Homo sapiens: one gene and its partners. The protein of the gene in region 1 interacts with the protein of each later gene in a pairwise test. Each region holds a gene or a part of one and is shown in the gene's direction. Other genes may lie near its edges.

What was found.
Region 2: the proteins of SLN (region 1) and PTPN11 interact in a two-hybrid assay, tested with the Homo sapiens proteins (one large-scale study listed by BioGRID and IntAct).
Region 3: the proteins of SLN (region 1) and KASH5 interact in binary tests that used the Homo sapiens proteins (3 or more experiments, as listed by UniProt).
Region 4: the proteins of SLN (region 1) and TMEM79 interact in binary tests that used the Homo sapiens proteins (3 or more experiments, as listed by UniProt).

Annotation. Positions count from the first base shown.
Region 1 is NC_000011.10:107,709,186-107,713,372, reverse strand, and holds the start of SLN (sarcolipin), read left to right. Parts: upstream 1-1,316; 5' UTR 1,317-1,410; intron 1,411-4,187. UniProt on the Homo sapiens protein: Reversibly inhibits the activity of ATP2A1/SERCA1 and ATP2A2/SERCA2 in sarcoplasmic reticulum by decreasing the apparent affinity of the ATPase for Ca(2+). Also inhibits the activity of ATP2A3/SERCA3.
Region 2 is NC_000012.12:112,453,447-112,457,039, forward strand, and holds part of PTPN11 (tyrosine-protein phosphatase non-receptor type 11), read left to right. Parts: intron 1-1,117; coding exon 1,118-1,234; intron 1,235-2,503; coding exon 2,504-2,617; intron 2,618-3,593. UniProt on the Homo sapiens protein: Acts downstream of various receptor and cytoplasmic protein tyrosine kinases to participate in the signal transduction from the cell surface to the nucleus. Positively regulates MAPK signal transduction pathway. Dephosphorylates GAB1, ARHGAP35 and EGFR.
Region 3 is NC_000019.10:49,401,699-49,405,291, forward strand, and holds part of KASH5 (protein KASH5), read left to right. Parts: intron 1-3,593. UniProt on the Homo sapiens protein: As a component of the LINC (LInker of Nucleoskeleton and Cytoskeleton) complex, involved in the connection between the nuclear lamina and the cytoskeleton.
Region 4 is NC_000001.11:156,287,325-156,290,133, forward strand, and holds part of TMEM79 (transmembrane protein 79), read left to right. Parts: intron 1-2,809.

The DNA of each region.
Region 1 (4,187 bases):
CAGAAGACAGAACTCTGATTACATTCAAGGAGTTTGCCAGATGGCAACAGATAACTGCCAATGTTCGGTTGCACTATAATTATTATACACTCTCTGTCACTTCAGCAAGCGCTCTTTTCACAAGACAAGTGGTGACAGAATGTTGTATTAAGATTACCCGTTGCTAAGCTTATGTTAAAATGAGGAAATGAAATGGAAAGTCTTGTTTTGGTAATGTCTCTGGGGTATGAGGAATGGAGGGAAAGGTTTGACTATGAGCATAACTGCATAGAGAATTTTGTTTGTTTATGCCTTTTGGGAATGCATTATTTTGATTGACCCTAATTGGGAATTCAGAGGGGGAGATTTCCTCTATTATCTATAAAGAAAGGATCTGCTGAGCAAACACAATTGCTAGGGTCATGTTTAAAGTACTTAATTGATCTGCTTTCAAGTCTAATTTAACACTTCAGGGGCTCCAAACATGTGATACATTGGTTACAAACTCATCTTAGTCTAATTTTAGTTAGTGTTCATATTAGAAAGTTATATAATACTTTTCTTTCTTTCAGATATATTCTATAATTCACATTTTTCACTAATTTTACCCAGTTCTCCTTCCACTCCCAATCTATCCAAATAACTGAGTTGAACTGTGTGAGTTTACTGCTCTATTAATTTATTGCCAGAGATATACAAACCATGACTTCCTCGGCTGTTTCAGATGAAACTGTAGATCCACGTGTAAACTTGCAATGCACAGCTTAGCTGGAAAGTTACGTGGAGCAGGTGACGGAGGGGATAGCTTTCACTGCTTGGACTAAAGTCAGTTTTGAAAGAGCTAAAGATGCCTATTGAATTCTGGAGTGTGTGTGTGTGTGTATGGGTGTGCATATGTGTGGGTGTAAGGCAGCAAACTCTTCACATTTCAAATAACTAAAGATATGGGTGGTAAAATGAAGTCACATTTTTACACCTCACAGGCTGACTAGGGAGAGCAGTCAAATGCAGCATCGATTGGTTAAAATTAGTCTATCATTCTTGGTTTATGATGTTTTAAAGACATGTTAAAGTTATTCATGAAGATGTAAAAGACACATTTAAAACCCACATCAATTGCACTAAAAGTCAACTGGAAACAGAAGGTTTTTAAATCCTGGTGGTGGCAAATTGGCAGCCAAAGGAACAAAGTCTTAGTCAACATATTTCCATGTCCCCCGAACACAAATAGCCTCGAACCTTCGGAGGGTGTTCCTTTGAGATGTTTCATCAGTGACATCACAGTGATTGCCAGCTTCCACGGACTACTTTAGGCGCTGCCCAGAGTCCAGGAGTCCAGACAGCCTGGGAGGGGAGAAGGAGTTGGAGCTCAAGTTGGAGACAGCGAGGAGAAACCTGCCATAGCCAGGGTGTGTCTTTGATCCTCTTCAGGTAACTGCAGGATTTTTATGCTTAGCATACGGTGTGTGTGTGTGTACAAGCTGCAAATGAGAAAGGCAGAGGAATGTTTGCATTTCTTAATGAAATAGGCAATGCCCCTTGGATACAGCATGCCTTAAGATATAAAGTGAGTACTATTGCTTTCTGTTTTCCTTTTTTTTTCTCCTAAGGGTATGCATTTTCTCCCTTCCTAGTAAAAAAAAATTTTTTTTCTTTCTTGTATTATGGAAGATGGTCTTTTTTCTATCTTCTCTAAGTCTCCATTCAAAGAAAGCCAATGTCAAACTTCCTGCACAATTTATTCAGAGCTTTTTGGGTTTTAGTTCATCCATTTGCAATCACTGGATCATATGGCATGACCTTGACTTCAGGGAATGTTTAAAATGAAACCCAAAGTGTCTTTATTGGTTAAAAGCAGAAAAATGGAACTTGGCTGATCTGAATTTCTGCCTAACTGGTTCATTCTTCCTAAAGTGTATAAATGTGTGTGAAAGGAATGTTCACACCACACCTTACAGTTAGCATATGTGTTGATTGAATTGAATTCACTAGAAATTCTCACCTTAACTCTTCATGTTTTATTCATCTAAAATCACATAAAACAACAAATATTCAAGGTCACCATTAAAGTGCAAGAAGTAGTAAGAGGTAAATCCCAAGAAAGAAAGAAGTGTGATGGGTAGCCTGCTAATTCAGAAATGACTGAAAAAAAAAAAGTTAAGAGTGCATAAACATACACAGTTTAAACAATAACTGAAAGGCAACACTTCTATAATTATCATCCAGGTCAAGAAACAGATCATTGCCAGCACCCAGAAGCCCATTCTTGATCAACCCCCATTCTGCCCCAAGATGTTGGGATCCTCTTGTCCCTGTTATTCTTTATAATTTGACCATCTATGTCTGCATGCCTAAACAATATGATTAACCTCCCTATTTTTGACATCATATAAATGGAGTCATATTCTCTGTTTCTTTTGTAAATTCTTCTTTCACCCAACAATTATATTTGTGAGATCTACCCATTTTCTGTGTAGCTATAGTTCATATATTTTCTTTGCTTTATGAAATTCAAATGTATAACTATACCACAATTTATCATCCATTCTGCTGTTGATAAACATTTGAGTTGTTTCCAGTTTGGAGTTATTGTGATAATATTGCTGTGAACTCTTTATTTATGTAACCTGGCACGCACGTCCTTGACTGTCTTAAGGTAGAAGTGAAATGCCAGATATTAGAGAATGAACATTTTCAACATTAATTCTAAGAAAGCTAAATTGTTTTCCAAAGTGGTTGAAAATTTATGCTAACTTTGTTTAGCCAGGCCAGTTAATTGCAGTGACAATTCACTTGTGTCATAACTCCTAGGAATTCTAGTAACTAGTTCCAGTCTGCTAATTCTAGCTTTGCCTCTAACTTGTTATCTGTCATTACACAAACATCTTAATCTCCTCTCTCTAAAAGTCAGTTTCTCAGCTGTAATCTTGAGAAAGATAAAAACTGCAGTAACACTTGCCTGAGTTGTTGCGAAGGTAACACAAACAGAGCTGTGGAACAGCTTTCAATAGTATTTTTCTCATTTTCTGAGTATATCCTGTTGGATCACTATCCATGATTCCCATGACTTAACAGCTTAATTTAATAGGCAGATTTGGTGGGACCGTTGTTTTGCTCTCCTTGAATTGTTTTGACCATTATAAGCCAGGCTTCATATTTTCTGCTTATCTCTGCATTTCTTGAGAACTTACCCAAATAGATGGACATTTGGACTATGGTTTTATTTCATTGATAAGTTTATAAGAAAGAGTCTGTCTTCGTTTCTCATTCCTTTGCCTCCAGGCACCTTGGCAAGACTCATTACCGTTCTGTTCTCCTCTGCTCTTTTGTACATTCTCATAAATCCTTTTTCCTTGATCCATTCATTTTATTCTGTTTACTTTCTCCTCCATGCAAATCTTTGTAAAGATTTTCTATTTTTTCCCCTTTTTATTTTCTTGGAGAGACAGGGTCTTGCTGTGTTATCCAGGCTGGTCTTGAACTCCTAGGCTCAAGTGATCCTCCCACTCCAGCCTCCCAAAGGGCTGGGATTAGAGGCATGAGCCACCACGCCCAGCCATTTGTAATGGTTTTCATTGGCAATTTACTATTTCCTTCATGCTGAGGTCTAAAAGATGGATAATAATTAAAAGGGAGATGAAATATAAATCTGTCATCATTTGGCTATATATCTACTGGTTGGCACCATCTGATTTGAACTTGTATTTTTTTTTGAGACAGGGTCTCATTATGTTGCCTAAGCTGGTCTTAAACTCCTAGGCTCAAGGGATCCTCCCACCTCAGCTTCCCAATTAGCTAGGACTACAGGTACCGACTGCCATGCCTGGCTGAACCTGTATGTTATGCCAATTACACAATATGAAAAATGATCATTCAGTTGGCATTTATGCAATTAACAATTTGGTCCATTGATAATATAATCAATACAGTAATTACAATTAATAATTCAGTCATGCTAGATAGTTTAAAAATACCACTCAGACCAAAAGCTTGCTAACAACCCTTTCAGCCTCTTGAACTCTCACCTTTAGCAAACACACAAAATACCCTTTCTCCCTAAACTTTCACTCTACAGTAGACTTTGGTCCTAAATGTCTAAAACATAGATATCGAATTATCTAAAATATATAAATCTTTAATTTCATTTAGGCTGCATAAATAATGTGCAATTTACACCATCTCACTGAAGACAATAGTTTGATGACTTC
Region 2 (3,593 bases), on another chromosome or scaffold:
TGACAGAAGACAGACACCATTACATTCAAAGTCAGATTGTCTTTTATTTATTTATTTATTTATTTATTTATTTGAGACAGGGTCTTGCTCTATCACCTACAGATGGGGTTTCACCACGTTGGGTCTGGTGACCCAAATCTTTGGGTGATTTTTCTGCTGGAAGAGGACAAACACCATTACATTCAAAGTCAGATTTTCTGTTTTTTTTTTTTTTTTGTTTTTGTTTTTTTAATATTCATTTGTTTATTCATTTGAGACTGGGTCTTGCTCTGTCACGCAGGCTGGAGTGCAACCTCCCTGGGCTCAGTTGATCTTCCCTCAGCCTCTTGAGTAGCTGGGACTACAGGTGTGTGCCACCATGCCCAGCTAGTGTTTGTATTTTTTGTGGAGATGGTGTTTTGCCGCATTGCCCAGTGTGGTCTTGAACTAGTGCTCAAGAGGCCTGCCTCCTTCAACCTCTCAAAGTGTTAGGATTACAGATGTGAACTACTGTGCCTGATCCAAAGTCAGATTTTCTTTGCTTACTTAGTCAAGTTCGTCTATGCTTTTATTATACTTAATATATTAGTATAGTTACTGTATTAGTATATTAGCATATTTAATATATTATTATACTTATCATACTTGAGTATATTGAGTATATTTACACTTTTAGTATATTTGTATACACACACCACATTTTTATTATTTATCTTTTTTTTGAGACAGAGTCTCCCTCTGTCTCCCAGGCTGAAGCACAGTTGGCTCACTGCAACCTCTGCCTCTTGGGCTCAAGTGATTCTCGTGCCTCACCCTCCTGAGTAGCAGGGATTACAGGTGTCCACCACCAAGCCTGGCTAATTTTTGTATTTTTAGTGGATATGGGGTTTTACCATGTTGGCCAGGCTGGTCTCGAACTCCTGACCTCAAATGATCTGCCCGCCTTGGCCTCCCAAAGTGCTGGAATTACTGGCGTGAGCCACTGCACCCAGCCTATTATCTGTCTTTTGATGGACATTTAAGTTGTCTCTATATACTAGCTATTGTGAATAATGCTGCAGTGAACATGAGAGTGCTTGAAAACACTAATGTAACATAAAGGTAACAAATAATAAATGTCATGTGTTTATCTTGAAAGGAACTGAAATACGACGTTGGTGGAGGAGAACGGTTTGATTCTTTGACAGATCTTGTGGAACATTATAAGAAGAATCCTATGGTGGAAACATTGGGTACAGTACTACAACTCAAGCAGGTGAGCAGATTGGAAAGCTCAAGCTTTCTCCTTAAAAACTTAAAACAAATCCTAATAGAGAATTTTGCAAACATACAGAGGTAGACAGAATAGTATCATCAGCCTCCATGTACCCATTGCAGCTTCAACTATCAAATCTTTTTTTTTTTTTTTTTTTTTGAGACAGTCTTACTCTGTCACCCAGTCTGGAGTACAGTGTTGCAATCTTGGCTCACTACAACCTCTGCTTCCTGGGTTCAAGCGATTCTCCTGCCTCAGCCTCCTGAGTAGCTGGGACTACAGGTGCCCACCACCATGCCCGGCTAGTTTTTGTGTTTTTAATAGAGATGGGGTTTCACCATGTTGGCCTGGCTGGTCTTGAATTCCCGACCTCAGGTTTTCTGCCCGCCTTGGCCTCCCGAAGTTTTGGGATTACAGGCGTGAGCTACCACGCCCGGCCCTAAATCTTTTCTTATTATGATTCCACTCACTGACTGCCGCTATAGTACTTGGAAACATATTCCAGATTTATATTATTCCCATATTTATCTGTAAAAGGCATTACAGAGGTTCTTTTTTTTTTTTTTTTTTTTTGAGATGGAGTTTTGCTCTGTCGCCCAGGCTGGAGTGCAGTGGCGTGTTCTTGGCTCACTGCAACCTCTGCGTCCCGGGTTCAAGAGCTTCTCCTGCCTCAGCCTCCTGAGTAGCTGGGATTATAGGTGGTGCCACTACACCCAGCTAATTTTTGTATTTTTAGTAGAGATGGGGTTTCACCATGTTAGCCAGGCTGGTCTTGAACTCCTGACCTCAAGTGATCTGCCTGCCTCAGCCTCTCAAAGTGCTGGGATTATAGGCATGAGCCACTGCATCTGGCCTAAGGCTGTACAGAGTTTTAAAGCAAGTTTTCATTATAGATCCACTTCTGGTTACCTTTAGGTAACCTCACTTATTCACTTTGGCATTGTTGCTATTTCAAATTTCACCTTTATGATAGTGGAAAATGATATAATCTCTCTAAATAATGTGGTCTATTCATAAAGAAAAATAGGCTTGAATTTATATCAGCAGAGTAAAGTGTATGTGAAGACTGAAGAAAGATACATTTTCTGGCTGAACAGAAAACACGGTGAAACGATTTGAAAACTTTTATTGTGAATTACAGGGTCCTATGAACCCTCTGTCCGTGCCTTTATGAATATCAACATAGACATGTTTTTTTTTTTTTTTTTGCATTAACACCGTTTTCTGTAATATTTTCTTTATTTTACATCAACTGCTGTACTCGATCAGCCCCTTAACACGACTCGTATAAATGCTGCTGAAATAGAAAGCAGAGTTCGAGAACTAAGCAAATTAGCTGAGACCACAGATAAAGTCAAACAAGGCTTTTGGGAAGAATTTGAGGTAAGTTATTAAAAAACTGTTTTTACGTGAGTTGTTATATCCTATTTTTAGTGGAGGAGAAGTTGCTCTTGTGTTTGGAATTGGACCTGAGAGACTTGAAACTGACGTCCTTTTTTAATTCGGCCATTGATTGACACGGAGCAAGTTGCTGAGAGGGCTTCTTCGAAACAGAAGAGCATTGTGTTCTGAGGGAAGGGAGTTGGCAGTGAGTAGTCAATGGATGTGCTAGCCGCTCCATTTGGCTCTTTTGGTTTGGACTGGTGGCAAAATCTCAGAGAAACAAAAGGATCTAATTTCTTCGAAAGATTTCCAGCATGCACTGGGGTCTTTAGAAACAATCTATAGCCTTAGTGCAGCAAATGAGTATGAGTAAAAGAGAAACACCTTGTGGTGGCTTTTTTTTTTTTTTTTTTGAGACAGGGTCTCGCTCTGTCGCCGAAGCTGGAGTGTAGTGGCGTGATCTCGGTTTACTGCAGCCCCGTCCTCCCTGGGCTCAAGTGATCTTCCCATCTCAGCCTACTGAGTAGCTGGGACTACAGGCACATGCCCCTATGCCTGGCTAATTTTTGTATTTTTGGTAGAGATGAGGTTTTGCAGTGTTGCCCAGGCTGGTCTTGAACTCTTGGGCTCAAGTGATCCTCCTACTTAAGCTTCCCGAGTAGCTGGGACTACAGGCACACGATACCATGCCCATCTAATTTTTGTATTTTTTTGTAGAGATGGGGTTTTGCAGTGTTGCCCAGGCTGGTCTTGAACTCTTGGGCTCAAGTGATCCTCCAGCTTTGACGTGCCAAATGTGGTGGCTTTAATTTCAGAGTTCAAATTGATAACTCTGGTAAGTTAAGTGAACTGATTTCTTTTTTTTTTAAATTATTTTTGTTGATTATACTTTAAGTTCTGGGATATATGTGCAGAACGTGCAGGTTTGTACATAGGTATACATGTGCCATCATGGTTTGCTGCACACATTAACCCA
Region 3 (3,593 bases), on another chromosome or scaffold:
CTGCATTCCTCCCCCAGCTCTAAGGATCTCTGCCTAGTCCAGACAGATCATGTATTCCCAAAAAATATCTTTGTCCTACATGTGCAGTGTTTTTTACACTGAAATCCAAAATCTTTCTGCTATTTTCTGGCTCTTCCATGAAAACTCACCCCCTTGGGGCAATGGGAATCTCACAGCAGGATGGCTGTACCATGTGAGACATGGAATGCAGCAGGATGTGACAGTTTCTTTCAGAACATCCCTTTTTAAGAATGAAAAAGTTGCCAGGCGCAGTGGCTCACGCCTGTAATCCCAGCACTTTGGGAGGCCGAGGTGGGTGGATCACCTGAGATCAGGAGTTCGAGACCAGCCTGGCCAACACGGTGAAGCCCCATCTCTACTAAAAATAAAAAAATCAGCCGGGTGTGGTGGCACACACCTGTAATCCCAGCTACTCGGGAGGCTGAGGCAGGAGAATCGCTTGAACCCAGGAGGCAGAGGTTGCAGTGAGCCAAGATGGTACCAGTGTACTCCAGTCTGGGCGACAGAGCAAGACTCAGTCTCAAAAAAAAAAGGAAAAGAAAAACTTTCCGGCTGGGCATGGTGGCTCACACCTGTAATCCCAACACTTTGGGAGGCCAAAGCAAGATTGCCTAGGCCAGGAGTTCGAGACCAACCTAGGCAACATAGTGAGAGCCCGTCTCTATAAAACAAAAAAAAACAAAAAAAGTAAATAAAAGAATGAAAGGCCAGGCACAGTGGCTCACGCTTGTAATCCCAGCATCTTGGGAGGCCGAGATGGGTGGATCATTTGAGGTCAGGAGTTCGAAACCAGCCTGACCAACATGGTGAAACCCCACCTCTACTAAAAATATAAAAATTAGCCAGGCGTGGTGGCAGGCGTCTGTAATCCCAGCTACTTGAGAGGCTGAGGCAGGAGAATCACTTGAACCCAGGAGGCAGAGGTTGCAGCGAGCTGAGATTGTGCCACCGCATTCTAGCCTGGGTGACAGAGCGAGACTCTGTCTCAAAAAAAATTTTTAAAAATGAAAAACTTTCCCTGAAGCCCCCTGGCAGAACTTCCTGCCTTACAGTTCATTGCCATTCAGCCATTATAACCAGACTACATGGATAATATGGCCACTAATGGGTCCAGAACGCTCCAGGGAAGAGAACAAAGAAATGATGACTTCAATCTACACGACATTCATTTCCTTAACCAGAGGTTTAGAAGAAGGTGGTCTCTGGGAAGAAGGTGGTCTCTGGGAAGAAGGTGGTCTCTGGGAGGTTTGGTGGCTCCCTGGCTGCCTGTGGCCTCATTATTGCAGATGACTGCAACAGCTTCAATCTCATGTTCTCATTCAAAGTAGGAAAACGTGGGGCAAAGGGGAGCCATGAGGCTGGGCGCGGTGGCTCACACCTGTAATCCCAGCACTGTGGGAGGCCGAGGCGGGCAGATCACAAGGTCAGGAGATCGAGACTATCCTGGCTAACATGGTGAAACCCCCGTCTCTACTAAAAATACAAAAAATAAATAAATAAATAATTAGTTGGGCATGGCGGCGGGCCGCTATAGTCCCAGCTACTCTGGAGGCTGAGGCAGGAGAATGTCGTGAACCCAGGAGGCGGAGCTTGCAGTGAGCCGAGATTGTGCCACTGCACTCAGCTTGGGCGACAGAGCAAGACTCTGTCTCAAAATAAAAAAAAAGGGGGGGGGCAGCCAGGAAATGCCCCTCTCGTGGCTCCTTTCATCAGAAGCCTCTCACCCCACCCCCAGCAGCTCTTACATCTCACTGGCCAGAACTGGCTGACATAACGCCCCCAGCTGCAAAGGAGCCCAGGAGAATATGTGACCTTTTTCAGCCTCTAGAGTGGCAGGTGAACAAGTGAGAAGGGGTGAGAATGGCTGCTGGCTTAGCTAACCAGCTGAGCTTCCTGCATCTGCCAAGATTTCCACCTTGACTCACTCCCATGGCTGGGGCTGGGACCCATCTGCCCTCAGACAGAGAGAGTAGATCCCTCGACAAAAGCAGAAGGAGTAAGCAGGGTAAATAGCAACCAGCAGTCTCATCTCTACCTCCTCCCCACCAGGAAGGCCTGCTGCCAGGTTGAGTGCCTTGAGCAGCATCTGGGACACCCTCGGCCCTCGATAAACTGGAGCTATTCTTGGTTCCCTCCCCTCTACCTTCCCCCTCCACACAGCTGCCTACAGAGCATCTATAGATTGAGTTCTCAAGTTACAGTAGAATAATGCTGGAGTAACAAGACACTCAGACACTGAAGATCCAGGCAGCCTTCCTGTGGAGAACCTACAGAGCTGTCTCAGGTTACTGCAGAAGGAGGCAGGAGCAGCTGAGTAACCAGGTTCCCTGCCGAGTGGCCCAGGATCTGGCCTGCAAATCCCTACCAGGTGGACAGATGTTGAGACAGCACTCCTTTCCCGTCCTTCCTCTGCCCTTCACCTGGCAGCCCAGGCCCACTGAGACAGAGGGAGAGCAGCTGATGGAGGACTTGGAGCTGGCTGGAGGGAGGGAGAGGCTGGCCTTGGTGTATCCCCTGGAGTGCCAAGAGGAGGGGCGTGGTGAAAGGGAACTCTGGACTGCCTCCATGCCCCAAAGTGCATTTCCCCAGTGACCACCTCGCTTTGAAACCCTGTGCAACTTGATAGGTTTTTGGTGCCCCTAAACTTTAGACTGGAATCTGGGCCATTTTATGTTCAGGTCCCATTTCATGGCTGGCATGGGCTGCCCTCTCCGGCCTATTGTTTTCCCAGCTAACTGCCCTCAGCCTTGAAGACTCAGCAACGCCTCCTCAGGAAGCCTGTTAGTGCTCCCATGGTACCCAGGCTGTAGGCCTCACCAGAGCCCACCTCGTGCATTGTTACCCGCTTCTGCATCCATCGCCACCTCTAGAGCCTAATTCCCTTTGTGTCCCATTCTCACCCAGGGCTGTGTCTGGCTCACATGAGAGTCTGAGGATTATAAACAGAATTTGGAATCACACAGATTTAGGTTTGAGTCCATTTACCATGTGACCTTGCCAAGTCTCTTAGCCTCTCTACTCCTTTATAAAATTGGAAATGATTATACTATTAATAGGGCAACCAGACTTGGCATTACTCCTGAATGGCACAATTTGATATGTATAGCACCACCCAATCTTGCCAAGAAATTGAACAACAGTCTGGACAAGGCCCTGGATCTACCTACCAGTTTATAAGAAATAATGATAGAGGAAAGTGGTGAACATAACCACAGGGAACAAGAGCGCAATCAGCCTAATCTGAACGCACCAATCCTACAGGACAAGGGACCTGCTTTCTTCCACAGAATGAGGGCCTGAAGAGTACCAGGGTCGGGGTGGAGGGGGCAGAAATTACTGTCAGATTAAAAGAAGTAAGACATTTCAACCAAAAGCAATGATGGACCTTGTTTGGACCCTCAATCAAAGTAAATGTAAAGAAATCTCTGAGACAACCAAAATGAAAAAGGAGCACAGGCCCGGTGCAGTGGCTCACCCCTGTAATCCCAGCACTTTGGGAGACCAAGAAGGGTGGATTACCTGAGGTCAGAAGGTCAAGACCACCCTGGCCAGCGTGGTGAAACCCCGTCTCT
Region 4 (2,809 bases), on another chromosome or scaffold:
AGAATCGCTTGAACCTGGGAGGCGGAGGTTGCAGTGAGCCAAGATCGCGCCATTGCACTCCAGCCTGGGTGACAGAGTGAGACTCCGTCTCAAACAAATAAATAAATAATTAAAATTAAAAAAATATAGAGATGAGGTCTCAAGGTTGGGGGGCCTGGTTGAGGGTACTGTCCTTCTCTTCCTGTTTGTCAATGAGGGGATGGCCCTGGTAGAGGGTACTGTCCTTTTCTTCATACAAACCAAGGATGTGTGAGCTCTCCTCGCAGCCTTCTTACTCTCCACTTTTTTTTTTTTTTTTTTTTTTTTTGAGACAGTGTTTCACTCTTGTTGCCCAGGCTGGAGAGTACAATGGCAGGATCTCAGCTCACTACAATCTCCACCTACTGGGTTCAAGCGATTCTCCTGCCTCAGCCTCCCGCGTAGCTGGGATTACAGGCGCCCACCACCAGGCCCAGCTAACTTTTTGTATTTTTAGTAGAGATAGGGTTTCACCATGTTGGCCAGGCAGTTCTTGAACCCCTAACCTCAGGTGATCTGCCCGCCTCAGCCTCCCAAAGTACTGGGATTACAGGCGTGAGCCACTGCGCCTGGCCCTTACTCTCCTTTCATTCAGACTTTGCCATCACCTAAAATCCTTAGGGGTACTTTGGGAGGCGGAGGCGGGCAGATCATGAGGTCAGGAGATTGAGACCATCCTGGCTAACACGGTGAAACCCCGTCTCTATTAAAAATACAAAAAAATTAGCCGGGTGCGGTGGCGAGCGCCTACAGTCCCAACTACTCGGGAGGCTGAGGCAGGAGAATGGCGTGAACCCGGGAGCCGAGATAGCGCCACTGCAGTCTGGCCTGGGTGAAAGAGTGAGACTCCGTCTCAAAAAAAAAAAAAAAAAAATCCTTAGGGGTATTTTCACATGAACTACTGTTAATCTAGAAGGCACCTTTGAATTTCTTAACCCAAATGCAGGTCTTTTCTTTCCATTTTCCCTAATACATATGCTCTTGTTACTTTTTTTTTCTTTTTTTTTTTTTGAGATGGTGTCTTACTCTGTTACCCAGGCTGGAGTGCAGTGGCGCAATCTTGGCTCACTACAACTTCTGTCTCCAGGCTCAAGCAGTTTTCCTGCCTCAGCCCCCCGAGTAGCTGAGATTACAGGTGTGAGCCACCATGCCCAGCTAATTTTTTTTGTATTTTTAGTAGAGACAGGGTTTCAACATGTTGGCCAGGCTGGTCTCGAACTTCTGACCTCAGATAATCCACCCATCTTGGCCACCCAAAGTGCTGGGATTACAGGCGTGAGCCACCACACCTGGCCTGCTCTTGTTACTTTTGATACAGGATTCCAGGTAGCTCGCTAAAATAAAATATTCTTCCTATTGAGCTAAAATTAGTCTTCCTGTCACTTCTGATTGTGGTCCAGCAGTCAGTTGTCCCACCAGCCTCCTGACCATCATGCAGCCTTGCATTTTCTCCCAATAGGTTTTCCCAAAATAAATATGTTCCTGCTCATGTAACTTAGCCTGCCATCTTAAACTCCTGGGGAATACTGGTTTCAGATAGAAGTTGGCTTAAGCAGTAAAAATCATCAGGGAGCTAAAGGAAGACTCAGTGATTGTCTGGTCCAGGCTTCCCATTTTACAAAGGGAAAATCACAACAGATTAGGGGAAGAGAGTTGCTCAGGTCAGTCGGCAATAGTGGCAGGACTAGAATCCAGGTCCTTTTCCTCTCTTATCCAGGGTCCTTTCTTCTTTACCATGGACAAGTTCATTAAGCAGTTTGTGCCTCAGTTTCATCATCTGTAAAATGAGGTCGTTATGAGGATTAAATGAGTTAATTCATGTAGAGTACTTAAAACAATCTAGTACTTGGTGCCAGGCGTGGTGGCTCACACCTGTAATCCCAGCACTTTGGGAGGCCAAGGCAGGTGGATCATGAGGTCAGGAGATCGAGACCATCCTGGCTAACACGGTAAAACCCCATCTCTAATAAAAATACAAAAAATTAGCCGGGTGTGGTGATGGGCGCCTGTAATCCCAGCACTTTGGGAGGCCAAGGCGGGTGGATCACCAGGTCAGGAGATCGAGACCATCCTGGCTAACACGGTGAAACCACGTCTCTACTAAAAATAAAAATAAAAAATTAGCCGGGCATGGTGGTGGGTACCTGTAGTCCCAGCTACTCAGGAGGCTGAGGCAGGAGAATGGCGTGAACCTGGGAGGCGGAGCTTGCAGTGAGCCGAGATTGGGCCACTGCACTCCAGCCTGGGCGACAGAGCGAGACTCTGTCTCAAAAAATAACAAGAACAACAAAAAAACAATCTGGTACTTGGTTCATTATACTATGCTGCTTCCTAGTGCAGAAGAGAAGCAGCAGTTACTCTTCCCTCCCTTTCACAGGTAAAAAAGAATAGAGGCACATGAATCATGTAATAAGTGGTCCTTCATATATTAAGAAGTGATCCTTCATATATTAAGAGGAAGTTGCTCTCCCCTCCCTCCATTGAGGGGTGTGTATTGAACATATCTTCCACGAAATCTGTGGCTGACCCATCCTCTGGGCTTCAAGCCCTCCTAGAGGTGGCTTCTTTGCTCTCCTCTTTACCTCTGCCCCTCAAATTGGCAGAAGGGAAGGTAATGAACAGGTTTGGGTTCATATCATGGCTTTGCTATTTCCCAGATGTGTGATCTTGGACCAGTCTTACTTAACCCTTGGAATCTTAGTTTCTTCATCTGCAAGAGGATAAATACAATGGAACACACTGCAGCTATAAAAGAATGAGAAAACCATTTTTATATTGATATAAAATGATC